Linked DNA regions of Homo sapiens: region 2 is linked to region 1. Evidence: fine-mapped expression QTL. Tissue or cell type: aorta. Region 1 holds a variant in brackets; the other region holds the start of a gene. All regions are shown on one strand. Distances are from middle to middle.

The links. PIP is the estimated chance that this variant, and not a neighbour inherited with it, causes the effect.
Region 2: CATSPER2 starts here. The variant in region 1 is fine-mapped to the expression of CATSPER2 in aorta (GTEx, PIP 0.98).

The regions. Positions count from the first base shown.
Region 1 is chr15:43,445,015-43,453,014 of GRCh38, reverse strand. It overlaps TP53BP1 (tumor protein p53 binding protein 1), which reads left to right. Exons shown (of 28, transcript NM_001141980.3): 13 at 5,530-5,649; 14 at 6,425-6,628. Among named protein-coding and RNA genes, the nearest start is that of TP53BP1, 44 kb to the left of the region's middle. The variant G/A (reference allele first, on the strand shown) is at 3,606.
Region 2 is chr15:43,644,466-43,652,596 of GRCh38, reverse strand. CATSPER2 (cation channel sperm associated 2) reads left to right here and starts at 3,753. Exons shown (of 13, transcript NM_172095.4): 1 at 3,753-3,968; 2 at 4,534-4,680; 3 at 5,130-5,303; 4 at 5,479-5,547. The coding sequence starts at 4,536. It also overlaps the pseudogene PPIP5K1P1-CATSPER2 and the pseudogene PDIA3P2.

The sequences.
Region 1 (8,000 bases):
CACCGTGTTAGCCAGGATGGTCTCGATCTCCTGACCTCGTGATCCGCCCGCCTCGGCCTCCCAAAGTGCTGGGATTACAGGCGTGAGCCACCGCGCCCGGCCTGGAGTACTTTTAAATTAAATGCAAAAGAAGCTTCTAAAACAGTGAGATATTCTATTATTTTAATAGTATTCTTCATGAATTCTTGTTTACATTGTTAATTGGCAGAGTCAGCTTTTTTTGCCGTAGTAAAACTTATTATTTTATTAACATTAATATCCAGATTATTGAAAATGCTAGTGATTTCGTGTTTATTTCATGATTTTAGTTCTTGGGCAAACAACAAAAAGTAATGAAGACAGTGGTTGGAAAATAGTATTTATGAGGAGAAGTTAAATAAAAATAATTTTAACTACAAATTAGAACATGAAGGGAGAATAATAGCTTTTTGTCTTTTTTTTTGTTTGTTTTTGAGCCAGGGTCTCACTCTGTCGCCCAGGCTGGAGTGCAGTGGCACCATCAATGTTCACTGCAGCCTTGACCTCCCGGGCTCAGGTGATCCTCCCACTTCAGCCCCCCGCCCCGAGAAGCCGGGACTACAGGCGTGTACCAGCATGCTTGGCTGATTTTTTGTAGAGACAGGGTTTTGCCATGTTGCCCAGGCTGATCTCGAACTCTTGGATTCAGGCAATCCACCCACCTTGGCCTCCCAGAGTGCCAGGATTACAGGTATGAGCCACCGTGCTCAGCCGAGAACAATAGTTTTTAACTTAGAAAATTGTATAAAATAAATCATTCAGAAGAGCGTTGCAAAAAGAACAGAAAAATATTATTTTGTACTTAAAAATATAGTTGTTTAGTTGCTAAATGTTGAGAGACTAATTTTATTTTTATTTTTTTGGAACAGAGTCTTGCTCTGTCGCCCAGGCTGGAGTGCAGTGACATGATCTCGGCTCACTGCAACCTCCGCCTCCCAGGTTCAAGTGATTCTTGTGCCTCAGCCTCCTGAGTAGCTGGAATTATAGGCACATGTCACCATGCCTGGCTAATTTTTGTATTTTTAGTAGAGACAGGGTTTTGCCATGTTGGCCAGGCTGGTCTCGAAGTCCTGGCCTCAAGTAATCCACCTGCCTTGGCCTCTCAAAGTGCCGGGATTACAGGTATGAGCCACTGGGCCTGGCCAAATTTAAATGATAGTAATCTAAAAAGTAATGGTTCTTCACTTTTACACTGTTGGTGGGACTGTAAACTAGTTCAACCATTGTGGAAGTCACTGTGGCGATTCCTCAGGGATCTAGAACTAGAAATACCATTTGACCCAGCCATCCCATTACTGGGTATATACCCAAAGGACTATAAATCATGCTGCTATAAAAACACATGCAGACGTATGTTTATTGCGGCACTATTCACAATAGCAAAGACTTGGAACCATCCCAAATGTCCAACAATGATAGACTGGATTAAGAAAATGTGGCACATATACACCATGGAATACTATGCAGCCATAAAAAATGATGAGTTCGTGTCCTTTGTAGGGACATGGATGAAATTGGAAATCATCATTCTCAGTAAACTATCGCAAGGACAAAAAACCAAACACCGCATGTTCTCACTCATAGATGGGAATAGAACAATGAGAACACATGGACACAGGAAGGGGAACATCACACTCTGGGGACTGTTGTGGGGTGGGGGGACGGGGGAGGGATAACATTGAGAGATATACCTAATGCTAAATGACGAGTTGATGGGTGCAGCACACCAGCATGGCACATGTATACGTGTGTGACTAACCTGCACATTGTGCACATGTACCCTAAAACTTAAAGTATAATAATTAAAAAAAAAAAGAAAAAAAGTAATGGTTCTTCAGTCTGAAAAGACAGAATGAAAGGTGTGAATTGGGTGAGTTTTGCATTTGTTCATCTACTATTAGAAGAGCACTTTTTTGTTGTTAATAGATTTATTGATTTTAAAAAAAGATACATGCTTGGCCAGGCATGGTGGCGTGCACGCGTAATTCCAGTTACTTAGGAGGCTGAGGCTTGAGAATCACTTGAACTCGGGAGGCGGAGGTTGTAGTAAGCTGAGATTGCACCACTGCACTTTAGCCTGCGCAACAGGGCGAGACCCTGTCTCAAATAAATAAGTAAATAAATAATGCATGCTTAATTTTGAAAAACATTCAAACAATACAAAGTAGAGATTCTGAGTGGGGAGGGTGTGGGGAGAGAGGGAGTTGGAAGGAAAAGAGAGAGTGAGTACAGAGAGGGAGAGAGAGAATTACTTTAAATGTCTCCATTTATAGATAACTTGTCACTGTTAACAGTTTGGAGACCTCTTCAAGTATCTGTCTATGGAGAGCTCCTGTTAAACCTGTAAAAAAGCAAGATGGTACTTGGAAGCCCAATCTTGTTCAACACAGAACAAATATTTGGTGGGTTGATGATGTGAAAAACTGTAAGGAGTTCAGTAAGTCTTTAAATCCATAAGTAATAGTCTGTAATAGTTAATAATGATCAGGGGATCTAGATGTGTTTTAGGCTCTAGCTATAACCTTTATTTGCTTACTTGATAGAATGCCATCTTAATTGGCTATTAATATCAGAGGCAGACTTTTGGGGTAGACTTCATGCATGATATCGCCGGATATATAAATTCTTACATTTTTAACTAGATGGCTTTTAATAAATTCTTAGGGGTAACCAGTTCTTTTAAGAACAAAGAAGAAAAATGGGTTTAAAACTATAACAGAAAGTTAGGAGAGACCTTCTTAACATTTAGAGTTTTAAATATTGCTTTGGAGTTATTCTCTAAAGTCCTTAAAGGACACATACTCCCACTCAGGTGGTTTCAAAATTAGTATTGAGTTTCCTTTTGTTTCCTCATTCATATCCTTCATTATTGTTTGGTATGCTGACCTACAACATGATAGCCCATGATTATCTGGAAAAACAAGAAGGGATTTGATAATTTAAAGAATGTAGGATTGCTAAATGTTAGAGAAATAATGGAATATGTGGAAAATTCCGTAAGTTTAAAAGGATAAAATATACCAGCAAATGTATTTTTAAGGATTTGGCAATAGTTTGAGTAGATGTGTGGTGTTTTCCAGATGAGGGAACAAAAGCATAGAAATGGGAAACCTTTGGAGGACATTGAATAGAAGCTTTATGAACGTGAATAATTAAAGAAAAACTGGAGATATAGGCTGCTACTAGTTAGTTGAATGCTGACTATAGAGTTGGGAATTTGTCTTCTAGTGAAAACCTTGAAGTTTTTTGACCAGGAGCTAACAAAGCCATGTTTTCTAGGAAGGCTGCAGAAAGTGTGCAGAAAGAATGGGGGTTAGGGAGAGTGGGAGACTTTAGGCAGAGGAAGTGATTGATAGGCTATGGTAATAATCCAGGAATGAGGCATTGGAGACCTGAGGAGAGTAGTGGCAGTGCTGTCCCTAGGGCCTGTAAAAGTCTGAATTTTCCATTAGGTTATAGTAATGCAGTTAGATAAATGGTGCTAAAATTACTTTCCATAAGTTTTATGTAATACTGTGCAAAGGAAACCTTGTTACAGGGATATATTTTCAGCGATTAATGCTTGCATATTGCATTTGCGTAATATA[G/A]TATGTCACATAGAAAGGTCTGCTTAAAGATTTCATGCACATTTTCAGAAGTCTGGAATATATGAGGCTTTGCAAGGTGTTTTTTAAGTTTCTGTATCTCTTCTAAGTTCTTTATTAGAACAACTTGCTTTATAAGGGGCTACCACAGAATGAATGCTTATCTACCTGACCCATTTCTCTTTTCTGTAACTATGGTGGATGTCTGTCAGTTAGATGTAATGTTGAGATTCTTCATCCATACTGTTTACAGGTTTGTTTTTGTTTTGTTTTGTTTTGTTTTTTTGAGGCACGGTCTCGCTCTGTCATCCAGGCTGTAGTGCGGTGGCACCATCTTGGCTTACTGCAACCTCTGCCTCCCAGGTTCAAGCAGTTCTCCTGCCTCAGCCTCCTGAGTAGCTGGGATTACAGGCACCTGCCACTACACCCAGCTAATTTTTGTATTTTTAGTGGAGACAGGGTTTCATTATTTTGGCCAGGCTGGTCTCGAACTTCTGACCTCAAGTGATCCATCCGCCTTCGTCTCCCAAAGTGTTGGGATTACAGGCATGAGCCATGGTACCTGGCCCCTCTTTACAGTTTCTTTAGCTGAGCATATGTACTTTAATCCTTTATTTCTAAAGACCATTTCTTTTTCTCTCTTTATCTCCTCAGATTACTAATTCATTTTCTCTTGAAACCCCATCTCTACTAAAAATACAAAAAATTAGCTGGGCGTGATGGAGGGCGCCTGTAGTCCCAGCTACTTGGGAGGCTGAGGCAGGAGAATGGCATGAACCCGGGAGGCGGAGCTGGCAGTGAGCCGAGATCGAGCTACTGCACTCCAGCCTGGGCGACAGAGCCAGACTCCGTCTCAAAAAAAAAAAAAAATTTTTTTGTTTTGTTTTGTTTTAAAGGAAAAAATTATCACGGTGCTTGCTATTAAAGATAGGAGTGGAAAAAGATGAAAGAAGCAAACTACTTTCATAAGTAGTAGTGTCCAAGTATGCCAGATTATAGTTATTTTGAGCCATCCCAGGAAAGTAAGAAGAAATTTTCATATATTAGTTTTAAGAGGGCAGTCTGGCGCAATTCTTATTTTCTCCCAAATGTATCATTTTATAAAAAGAGATAAATTAGGAAATTAGAAAATGTGATTTTTTGACGGTTTTCTAGTTCTGATTAGCAAAAATTTGGAACTGAGACCTAGGTAGAAAGTAGCTTTATGTCTTGACAAATATTTTCTATTTATAATAATTTAATAACTAAAATGTGTACACTGGTGATGCTTATATATGAGGGATTTACTGTTGTGCAGAGATTTAGGTATGAACATTACACTTAGGCCTAGAGTGAATGCTGGTCCGTACTGCTGAACCATGAAACCCTTGGATTTCTATGCTAGAACCAGTCAGTATCTTGAAGTCCTTTAACCCGTGAGATCCTCTGTCATCTCTTTGATTAGATTGTACATTATAAGTATTAACTTCAAACTTTGCTTTGGAGAATCCTACAGACTATTAAGGCTTATAAACAAACTCCTTAGGTTAGCATTGCACAAAATTATGTTGTTCTGATTTGAAACTGTCCAAATTTGTATTGCTAAATATCCCCTGATGTACTGTCTTGGAGATCAAATGTTTGTGTTCCATTTGACTCCAGGTTCCTCAGGTCTTGCAGACTTCGGGCTTTCTCAATTTGCCTGTCCTCTGGTTGTCTACTTTGTGTCAGTACTATAGTTGTTGGCTGTGAAGAGAGCAGAGACGATAGAAGGGAGTTAGTCAGGAGGCCTGGTGAGGGTGGTGGCAATGAGACAGAATTTGGGAGCAAAGGAAAAGAGTGATTGAAATATTTCTTGCAGTTCTTATTATTTTTGCTTATTTTATACTTCTGTTTTTTTTAAATCATTTTTTCTTTCTTTCTTTTTTCTTTTTTTTTTTTTTTTCAGAAACCCCATTTCATTTCACTTTGCCTAAAGAAGGTGATATCATCCCACCATTGACTGGTGCAACCCCACCTCTTATTGGGCACCTAAAATTGGAGCCCAAGAGACACAGTACTCCTATTGGTGAGTGAATAAAAAGTAATGATATTTAAGGCAGAATTTCTGAGATATCATTCTCTACACAAGTGATATTTTAGATCTGAGGAGTTGGGTCTGGCTGGTAAGGTTGATTTTTGTTTTAGGGAAAATAGGGTTATGAAGTCTGGTTCTGTGATTTTACTACTAGGAGATGAGGGGTAAAGAGAGGAAGGAAAGAAAGGGTGGAGGGAAGTAAGAAAGAAAGAGAATACTTAAAAGAATTTTATCTTATTACTTGCAAGGCAGTAGAATCTGAGTGCTAAGTAGTGATGTAGAGATGTTTTATAAGGATGGAACAGGAAGTAAGGTAGAAGTACTATTTATTCAGTACCTTGGCTAATTAGTCAGTCTGCTGCTTGACAGGGCAAGAAAACTTAGATCCTCCTTCCCTGAAGCAGCCAGTAGTCTTCTACATTAACCTATTTGTTTTCTCTAGTCAGTGCTGGGAGGTAACAATCATGCCGTCTGGAGTCTCCTGCTACCTATGCCTGATGCTGGCAGATGTGGGTTGGCTGAGGGCTCATGCAGCATCCTTTGTCCAGATGCAGAAGTGGAACTGAATCCTGTTGCTCCTCTTAAGACCAGGTGTCAATACTAGTTCGTAGTTGTTGATACTTATGACAGGGATCTATCCTAGGAACCTCCTTCAATCCTGCAGAGCTGTGGAGCCAAACAGGCAAATTGATGACCTTGAATTGCTGTTTTTTGTGTTTGTATTTTAGTGTTCTTTTTTTCTTCCTCCCTGCCTCACTTCTTTCAGGTATTAGCAACTATCCAGAAAGCACCATAGCAACCAGTGATGTCATGTCTGAAAGCATGGTGGAGACCCATGATCCCATACTTGGGAGTGGAAAAGGGGATTCTGGGGCTGCCCCAGACGTGGATGATAAATTATGTCTAAGAATGAAACTGGTTAGTCCTGAGACTGAGGCGAGTGAAGAGTCTTTGCAGTTCAACCTGGAAAGTAAGTTTTATGTTAATCTTGGGTAATTAGTAGCTGCAGATTATCTGGGGAGTATTGATTATAATCTAGTTATAATAATTGATACTTCTATATTTATAAATGTATTTGTAAAGTCTTACACTCATAGATTTAATTCTTTGCTTTTGGCCAGCCTGTCATGTTACTAAAGATACTCTGTTTTATAATCTCCATATTATAGCTTGTTTCTGTTAAGTCTGTTCCTATGTAATTGGTTTCCCTATTCAGAAAGACTTCAGAATAGGGTAGAAAACTTTAGGACTGTGGATTCACATTGCAGATTAATGTTGATTCTTTCCCACATGAATTAGAAGTTGTTTGGTAGGGCTAGAATAAAGAGAAGATACAAGGGAGGGATGCAAAGTAGGGACCAGATGCTGAAAGGCTTTTTACATCATGCTGAGAAGCCGAAGAATTTTAGGCAAGGGAGTAATATGATCAGATTTGCCTTTAAAAAAAAGCATCAGCTGAGTCTTTCAAAACCTTGTGCTTTTGTGCATGATGATTCCTTTCCTTGCATTTCCCATATTCTGTTCTCCTGCCTGGTAAATTCTACCCAGTCTTTAACCAGAAAGTGAGGTCATTGGTAGTGGGGCTGGAGATGAGGGATGAATTTGAGGAGCGAGTAGGCAGAACGATGGTGCCAGGTGAATATGGAAGTAAGGGGGAGGAAAAAAAGAGAGAATGACTCTTCACATATACTGTATGATCTCATTTCCATAATAGTACTCCCAAGTAGGTATCTGCATTTTCATTTTATTGATGAGAAAACAGAGTAAGAGAGGTTTTTAAGTTACATGTCTAAGGTCACAATAATTGGTGCTAGGTGGAGTTGGAATTTGAGTCAGACCTAACTCTGAAGCTTATAATTTTTTCATTTCAGGTAATTTGTAAAAGCTGTTTAAGGGGGATTAGAAGAGGAAGAAATCTCATAAAGGAGATTATAAAGGAACGTTCAGAGAGAAGGAGAACTAGGAGGGTATATGAAGCCATGGAAGCCTATGGGGAGGGGAGTTACAAGAAGATCATGTCAGGCACAGGAGCAAGTTTAGTAAGATGTGTCTGGAAATATACTTTGACTTCGGCGAGGCAATTAGGATCCATTTGGTGACTCTAGCAAGAGCCATTTCAGTGCAGCAGTTGGGGTGGGAGCTATACTGAAAGTAATTGAGGAAGGATGAGGAAGAGGAGATGAGGCTGCAAATGTACTCTCTACTTTTGAGAAGTTTATGTGAGAGAAGAAGAGAAAATATGGTGAGTTAGAGGGAAATGCAGGGTTGAGAGAGGATTTGTTATTTTAGGCTGGGAGAGGCCTGAGCAAGTTTACAGATTTTAACCCATTTATGCCTAGTGT
Region 2 (8,131 bases), 200 kb before region 1:
AGAGCTTTACTTCCAACTATGTGGCCAATTTTGGAATAGGTGTGGTGTGGTGCTGAAAAAAACGTATATTCTGTTGATTTGGGGTGGAGAGTTCTGTAGATGTCTATTAGGTCCGCTTGGTGGAGAGCTGAGTTCAATTCCTGGGTATTCTTGTTGACTTTCTGTCTCGTTGATCTGTCTAATGTTGACAGTGGGGTGTTAAAGTCTCCCATTATTAATGTGTGGGAGTCTAAGTCTCTTTGTAGGTCACTCAGGACTTGCTTTATGAATCTGGGTGCTCCTGTATTGGGTGCATATATATTTAGGATAGTTAGCTCTTCTTGTTGAATTGATCAACAAGGCCTTAATTACTTAATTGATCATTAAGTAATGGCCTTCGTCTCTTTTGATCTTTGTTGGTTTAAAGTCTGTTTTATCAGAGACTAGGATTGCAACCCCTGCCTTTTTTTGTTTTCCATTTGCTTGGTAGATCTTCCTCCATCCTTTTATTTTGAGCCTATGTGTGTCTCTGCACGTGAGATGGGTTTCCTGAATACAGCACACTGATGGGTCTTGACTCTTTATCCAATTTGCCAGTCTGTGTCTTTTAATTGGAGCATTTAGTCCATTTACATTTAAAGTTAATATTGTTATGTGTGAATTTGATCCTGTCATTATGATGTTAGCTGGTTATTTTGCTCATTAGTTGATGCAGTTTCTTCCTAGTCTCGATGGTCTTTACATTTTGGCATGATTTTGCAGCGGCTGGTACCGTTTGTTCCTGTCCATGTTTAGTGCTTCCTTCAGGAGCTCTTTTAGGGCAGGCCTGGTGGTGACAAAATCTCTCAGCATTTGCTTGTCTGTAAAGTATTTTATTTCTCCTTCACTTATGAAGCTTAATTTGGCTGGATATGAAATTCTGGGTTGAAAATTCTTTTCTTTAAGAATGTTGAATATTGGCCCCCACTCTCTTCTGGCTTGTAGAGTTTATGCCGAGAGATCTGCTGTTAGCCTGATGGGCTTCCCTTTCAGGGTAACCCACCTTTCTCTCTGGCTGCCCTTAACATTTTTTCCTTCATTTCAACTTTGGTGAATCTGACAATTATGTGTCTTGGTGTTGCTCTTCTCGAGGAGTATCTTTGTGGCATTCTCTGTATTTCCTGAATCTGAATGTTGGCCTGCCTTGCTAGATTGGGGAAGTTCTCCTGGATAATATCCTGTAGAGTGTTTTCCAACTTGGTTCCATTCTCCCCATCACTTTCAGGTACACCAGTCAGACGTAGATTTGGTCTTTTCACATAGTCCCATATTTCTTGGAGGCTTTGCTCATTTCTTTTTATTCTTTTTTCTCTAAACTTCCCTTCTCGCTTCATTTCATTCATTTCATCTTCCATCGCTGATACCCTTTCTTCCAGTTGATTGCATCGGCTCCTGAGGCTTCTGCATTCTTCACGTAGTTCTTGAGCCTTGGCTTTCAGCTCCATCAGCTCCTTTAAGCACTTCTCTGTATTGGTTATTGTAGTTATACATTCTTCTAAATTTTTTTCAAAGTTTTCAACTTCTTTGCCTTTGGTTTGAATGTCCTCCCGTAGCTCAGAGTAATTTGATCGTCTGAAGCCTTCTTCTCTCAGCTCGTCAAAGTCATTCTCCGTCCAGCTTTGTTCCGTTGCTGGTGAGGAACTGTGTTCCTTTGGAGGAGGAGAGGTGCTCTGCTTTTTAGAGTTTGCAGTTTTTCTGCTCTGTTTTTTCCCCATCTTTGTGGTTCTATCTACTTTTGGTTTTCGATGATGGTGATGTACAGATGGGTTTTTGGTGTGGACGTCCTTTCTGTTTGTTAGTTTTCCTTCTAACAGACAGGACCCTCAGCTGCAGGTCTGTTGGAGTACCTGGCCGTGTGAGGTGTCAGTCTGCCCCTGCTGGGGGTTGCCTCCCAGTTAGGCTGCTTGGGGGTCAGGGGTCAGGGACCCACTTGAGGAGGCAGTCTGGCCGTTCTCAGATCTCCAGCTGCGTGCTAGGAGAACCACTGCTCTCTTCAAAGCTGTCAGACAGGGACATTTAAGTCTGCAGAGGTTACTGCTGTCTTTTTGTTTGTCTGTGCCCTGCCCCCAGAGGTGGAGCCTACAGAGGCAGGCAGGCCTCCTTGAGCTGTGGTGGGCTCCACCCAGTTCGAGCTTCCCGGCTGCTTTGTTTACCTAAGCAAGCCTGGGCAATGGCAGGCACCCCTCCCCCAGCCTCGCTGCCGCCTTGCAGTTTGATCTCAGACTGCTGTGCTAGCAATCAGCGAGACTCCGTGGGTGTAGGACCCTCCGAGCCAGGTGCGGGATATAATCTCCTGGTGCGCTGTTTTTTAAGCCCGTCGGAAAAGCGAAGTTTTCGGGTGGGAGTGACCCGATTTTCCAGGTGCTGTCTGTCACCACTTTCTTTGACTAGGAAAGGGAACTCCCTGACCCCTTGCGCTTCCCGAGTGAGGCAATGCCTCGCCCTGCTTCGGCTCGTGCACAGTGCGCGCACCCACTGACCTGCGCCCACTGTCTGGCACTCCCTATTGAGATGAACCGGGTACCTCAGATGGAAATGCAGAAATCACCCGTCTTCTGCGTCACTCATGCTGGGAGCTGTCGACTGGAGCTGTTCCTATTCGGAGTATTGACATTTTAAAGAAATCCTAATTAAAATGGACAATATGGACAGATTATGATGGAATTATTCTTGTTCAGGTACTCTTTTCGTTTGGACAGAGGTATCTGCCGGTACTGAGATGTAAGTGATCAGCTGAAGGGAGAAACTGTACACCATGTGACGGACAAATTGCCTGCCTCAAGAAAGCACTTAGGACCATTCTGCAGCCACTCAGTGACCTTGGCTAGAAACCAATGGCTGTGCGGCGTGAGGTAAGATGAAAGGAAATACCCTAGGGATCCAGGACTTCTGCATTTGGTGAAACGTCCGCTTCCACTACAAGGCTTTGGGATGTCTAGTCTGTAGACTGGAGTAACATTAATACTGACTCATGCAGAAACAATATAGCTACATATTGAACTGGGGGAAGGGGTGGCAAAACCCTCTGCAAATAGGAAGTGCCACAAGAGCACCGAGATAAGGATGAGGCCCTGCGTGAGCGCAGCCTTCGGGTTTTCCTTGGGCCGATCAGCACCGACTCCACCGCTCTCGGCGAGGCACCTCCAGCTCCCGGGAATGAGAAATGTGCCCGCCACAGCAGGGGCCCACAGGAATGAAGGGCGCCGGCGCTGCGTAGGCCCAACAGTTCCCCGCGCCCTCGCCCCCGGCCCCGGCCCAGCCCGGCCCTTCTTCCCCCGCCTTGGCAGAGTGGCGTCATCAGGGGGCGAAAAACCCGACGAGCATGAGGCCCGCAGATCCCGTGTAGGAGATGCGACTCTCGAAGTTGTCGTCCGTGAGTTCGGAGGCAGCGGCGAGGCGGGCCGCGGCAAGAAGCAGCGCCACACCCGGGAACAGCGCTAGGCGGCGGAGGCGCATGGCGGCGAGGTGGGGTGGGGACGGCCGGAAGGGTCGCGGCTCGGCTGGGACTGCGGAGGTCGGGCGCGCGACCACAAACCGGCTGCCTGCGCTGGCGCGTCTGGCCCAGGGGACCTGCAGCCGGAGGTCCCAACCCCCAAACCCGGCTCGGGCCGCTGTGTGGCAGCCGCTGATTGGCTGCGCGTCGCCTTCGTCCGGCGGGCGGGACCAGCTGGTTACCGCTGAGTGGCCGGAGAGCGGGGCGGGGCGGGGCCTAGGCGGCGAGTGGCTGGGCGAGCGTTGCTCCGCATGGTCCTGGGCTGTGGGTAGGGGCTAGGGCCGGGTCCCGGGGTGAGCCGAAACCTGGGGGTCGAGCGGGGCGGGGAATGGGGCGCAGTGAGGCTGGGAGCCGGCCCTGAGCTCGTCTTGCATAGGGGTAGCCAGGCTCGGGGCACCTGAGCTGGAGGCGGAAGCGTGAAATAAGGACTGAGTGGGCAAAGAGAACCTGGGCTGAGGTGAGGCCCAGAAGCGAGAATGGAGGAGAGAAGGAGCTAGCCCCCGAAGGAGTGTTGGAGTGGACACACTTGGGACGGGACCCATTTTCAAAATGTCAGGCTTTGGCATTTTGTCCAATTTCTCTGCACTTGGTTTCTCTTGCGTGAGCAGGCCAAGACCTCCCCCAACTCCACCTCATTGCCCGATTGTCTCAGGCACAGGTGGGACCCAGATTCTTTGTCCAGCCCCGGGCCCCTGCCCTTGTGGCTGCTCCTTTTTCTTGCGGTGTTTTTGTTTGTTTTGTTTTGTTTTTAATGAGTTTTAATTAGAAATGCCATCACAAAGTGAAGATGCCTGGCCGCTTGGTCGACTGTGCAATGTCTTTACCACTTAGCCCCTTTTGTTTCAAAACACCCTGAGTCCTAGTAGAATGTTTGTTCTTCCCAACTGCTCCTAGTTCGTAGATGTGGGTACATTAAGGAATCTTAAGGGTAAAGAGGGTGGGGAGGAGGGGACAGAAAACCTGTAATCCTTGGTGCAGCTCCAAGAATGAAATGACACTTGATGCTTACATTTTCTTAGCAGACATGGCCGCTTACCAACAAGAAGAGCAGATGCAGCTTCCCCGAGCTGATGCCATTCGTTCACGTCTCATCGATACTTTCTCTCTCATTGAGCATTTGCAAGGCTTGAGCCAAGCTGTGCCGCGGCACACTATCAGGGAGTTACTTGGTCAGCAGCCTATTTCTTCACTAATTTAAATTTAAGACTCCTATCCACATCCTCTACATTTAAGAGTGGAAAATTCTGGGGAGGTTTAGTTGCTGGTTTACCAAACTTGATAAATCAAGGGCTTGTAAATAAAACTGAAGAGATAGAATCCACGTCTTTCACTTTTAGGCCTAGGATAGCCACTAGCCATGGATGATTGGGAAGAGTTTCTGTCAAAGACTCTTAAAACTTTGAGAGTGAGCCTGCTGCTTTTGTGGGCATGGACAGTGTTGGTCATAAGCAATACATTTGCTCTCACTCCAAACAGAATTCTTAGTTGCTGTGAGAAGAGAAGGACTAGCAGTAAGGCATTAGGGGAACCCATTACCTGACCAGTATCCCTGCCCCCAACCCTACCTGGTCTATTTTGTTTGTATTTATCCACTATCCCTTTTTAATTTTTGTTGTAGATCCTTCCCGCCAGAAGAAACTTGTATTGGGAGATCAACACCAGCTAGTGCGTTTCTCTATAAAGCCTCAGCGTATAGAACAGATTTCACATGCCCAGAGGCTGTTGAGCAGGCTTCATGTGCGCTGCAGTCAGAGGCCACCTCTTTCTTTGTGGGCCGGATGGGTCCTTGAGTGTATCCTTTCATGTCACTCATTTTTATCCTGGCTGTTGATCATCTGCCTAATGACTTATTTTTTGCTCCCCATACTCCACTGTCTCATTTTCACTGCTTATGTTATTGCTCTTATTATTTCAGCTGCATAAATCAGAAAGAACTCCACTCTGTACATTTCCTTAAGAGACAACAGGTCCTCTCTTCAAAAACTTCATCATCTTCCTGGTCTTTTTGAATACGATCATATTGATGGTTGAAATAGGTGAGAACTGACCTTGTATGAAAGAGGAAGTGAGGCCGGGCACGCCGGCTCACACGTGTAATCCTAGCACTTTGGGAGGCCGGGGCGTGTGGATTGCCGGAGCTCAGGAGTTGGAGACCAGCCTGGGCAACATGGTGAAACCCTGTCTCTACTAAAAAATACAAAAAATTAGCCGGGCTTGGTAGCACGCGCTTGTAGTCCCAGCTACTTGGGAGGCTGAGGCAGGAGAATCGCTTAAACCCAGGAGGCGTAGGTTTCAGTGAGCCGAGATTGTGCCACTGCATTTCAGCCTGGGCGACAGAGTACAACTCTGTCTCAAAAAAAAAAAAAAGAAAAAGAAAAAGAGGAAGTGGGTAGGAGTAATTTTTTTTTCTAAATTGATCATTTTACATTTTTGAATGTCATTTGAAATGTGACATTTATATTAAGGACAATTATATTAAGCCTCCTGGAGTAGAATTTATGCAACTGCTAAAATCTAGAAATATTCGCTGGGCACGGTAGCTCACACCTGTAATCTCAGCACTTTGGGAGGCCGAGGTGGTTGAATCACTTGAGGTCAGGAATTCAAGACCAGCCTAGCCAACATGTTGAAACCCCATCTGTACTAAAAATAGAAAAAATTAGCTGGGCGTGGTGGTGGGCACCTGTAATCCCAGCTACTCAGTAGGCTGAGGCAGGAGGACGCTTGATCGTGGGAAGCCGAGGTTGCAGTGAGCTGAAATCACGCCACTGCACCCCATCTCAAAAAAAAAAGAAATATTAATATTTGGAGGCTCTCAAGAGTATACTAGATACAGAGCATCTAGACACATAAAACTAGGTGTAATATGTAGCAATATAACAAATCCACAAGGAACTGAACTTGGGAAGACCAGTTTTATTTCTGTTGTCAGTTTAGCCTGACATTTGTTTGAATTAACCTTTTCTGTTAAAGATATTGGTGCCTATCAGTGAACGATCTAACATTTACATTTTTACAAGTATATTTAGAAAGATTAAGTATAAATAAGAAAGCTCACAAAGTATGGAAAGGTAGGTACAACTAAGATATTAGCTGAGCCAAAAAAATTACTTAAAAAGGAAATGATTCTGAAACCAATAATAAATTATATGAAATACATTCAAAACATAAGTATGTCTGCAAAATCAGTGAGCTCATTTGTTGATAATCTCAAACTGCTCAGAAATGATGAAAGGACAGTAGAACTTGTTTCATTCTCACTGTTGTGGGGAAGTCTCCCACTTTATGTTTTAGAGACAGAGTCTCACTTTGTTGCTTAGGCTGGAGTGCAGTGGTGTGATCATGGCTTGTTGCAGCCTCGACCTCCAGGGCTCAGTTGATCCTCCCACCTCGGCCTCCTGAGTAGCTTGGACTACAGGTGCATGCCCACTACACCAGGCTAATTATGTTGATTTTATTTTTGTAGAGACAGGGTCTCACTATGTTGCCCAGGCTGGTCTTGAACTCCTGGGCTCAAAAGATCCTCATGCCTTAGCCTCCCAAAGTGCTGGGATTACAGGCGTGAGTTACCACGTCCAGCCTAGGAGGAATTTTTAAGAGAAGGGAGTAGTTATGAAGCTCTTGGCTGTTTATTTCACACAGATATTTTCCTCAACAGAAATGTCCAGTGCCTGTAGCCAGTTCAGGACTCTGCCTCTAGCTCCAAGTCCCCTACAAGCTTATCTCTGGGGCCCAGGCATGGTGGTTCATGCCTGTAATCCCAGCACTTTGGGAGGCTGAGGCGGGAGGATCGCTTGAGCTCAGGAGTTTGAGACCAGCCTGGCCAATGTGGAGAAACCTCATCTCTACAAAAAATACAAAAGTTAGCTAGGTGTGGTGGCACATGCCTGTAGTCCCAGCTACTCAGCAGGCTGAGGTGGGAGGATCGCTTGAGCCTGGGAGGCGGAGGTTGCAGTGAGCCATCATGCAACGGAACTCCAGCCTAGGTGACAAAGTGAGACCCTGTCTCAAAAAAATAAAATAGTCCTTTACTGCAGTCAGGTCAAAGATATTTAAATATACAACAATAATTGATGTCACAGACCCACTACAGTATACTATATACTTTGAGGTGTTTTATTTCCTCCTCGTAATGGTGAAGATTTTGAACTAACTTACTTATAATTCCCTTTTATTGTATGATTGCTGCCATGTATTTGCCTTGCATGGCTAGAATTATAGTCCTAAGCCTTGGAATGAAGTAAATAATAGTAACTATACAGGATTTCCTAGATCAGTGGTCCCCAGCCTTTTTGGCATCAGGGACTGGTTTCTTGCAAGACAGTTTTTCCATGGATGGGGTAGGAGGGAGGTTTCAGGATGAAGCTGTTCCACCTCAGATCATCAGGCATTAGATTCTCCTAAGGGTCACGCACATGCAGTTCACAATAGGGCTCGCCCTCCTGTGAGAATCTAATGCCGCAGCTGATCTGACAGGAGGTGGAGCTCAGGCGGTAATGCTCACTCACCCACCACTCACTTCCTGCTGCATGGCCGGGTTCCTAACAGACCATGGACTGGTACCAGTCCGTAGCCTGGGGCTTGGGACCCCTGCCCTAGATCTAATAGACAAATCAAAAT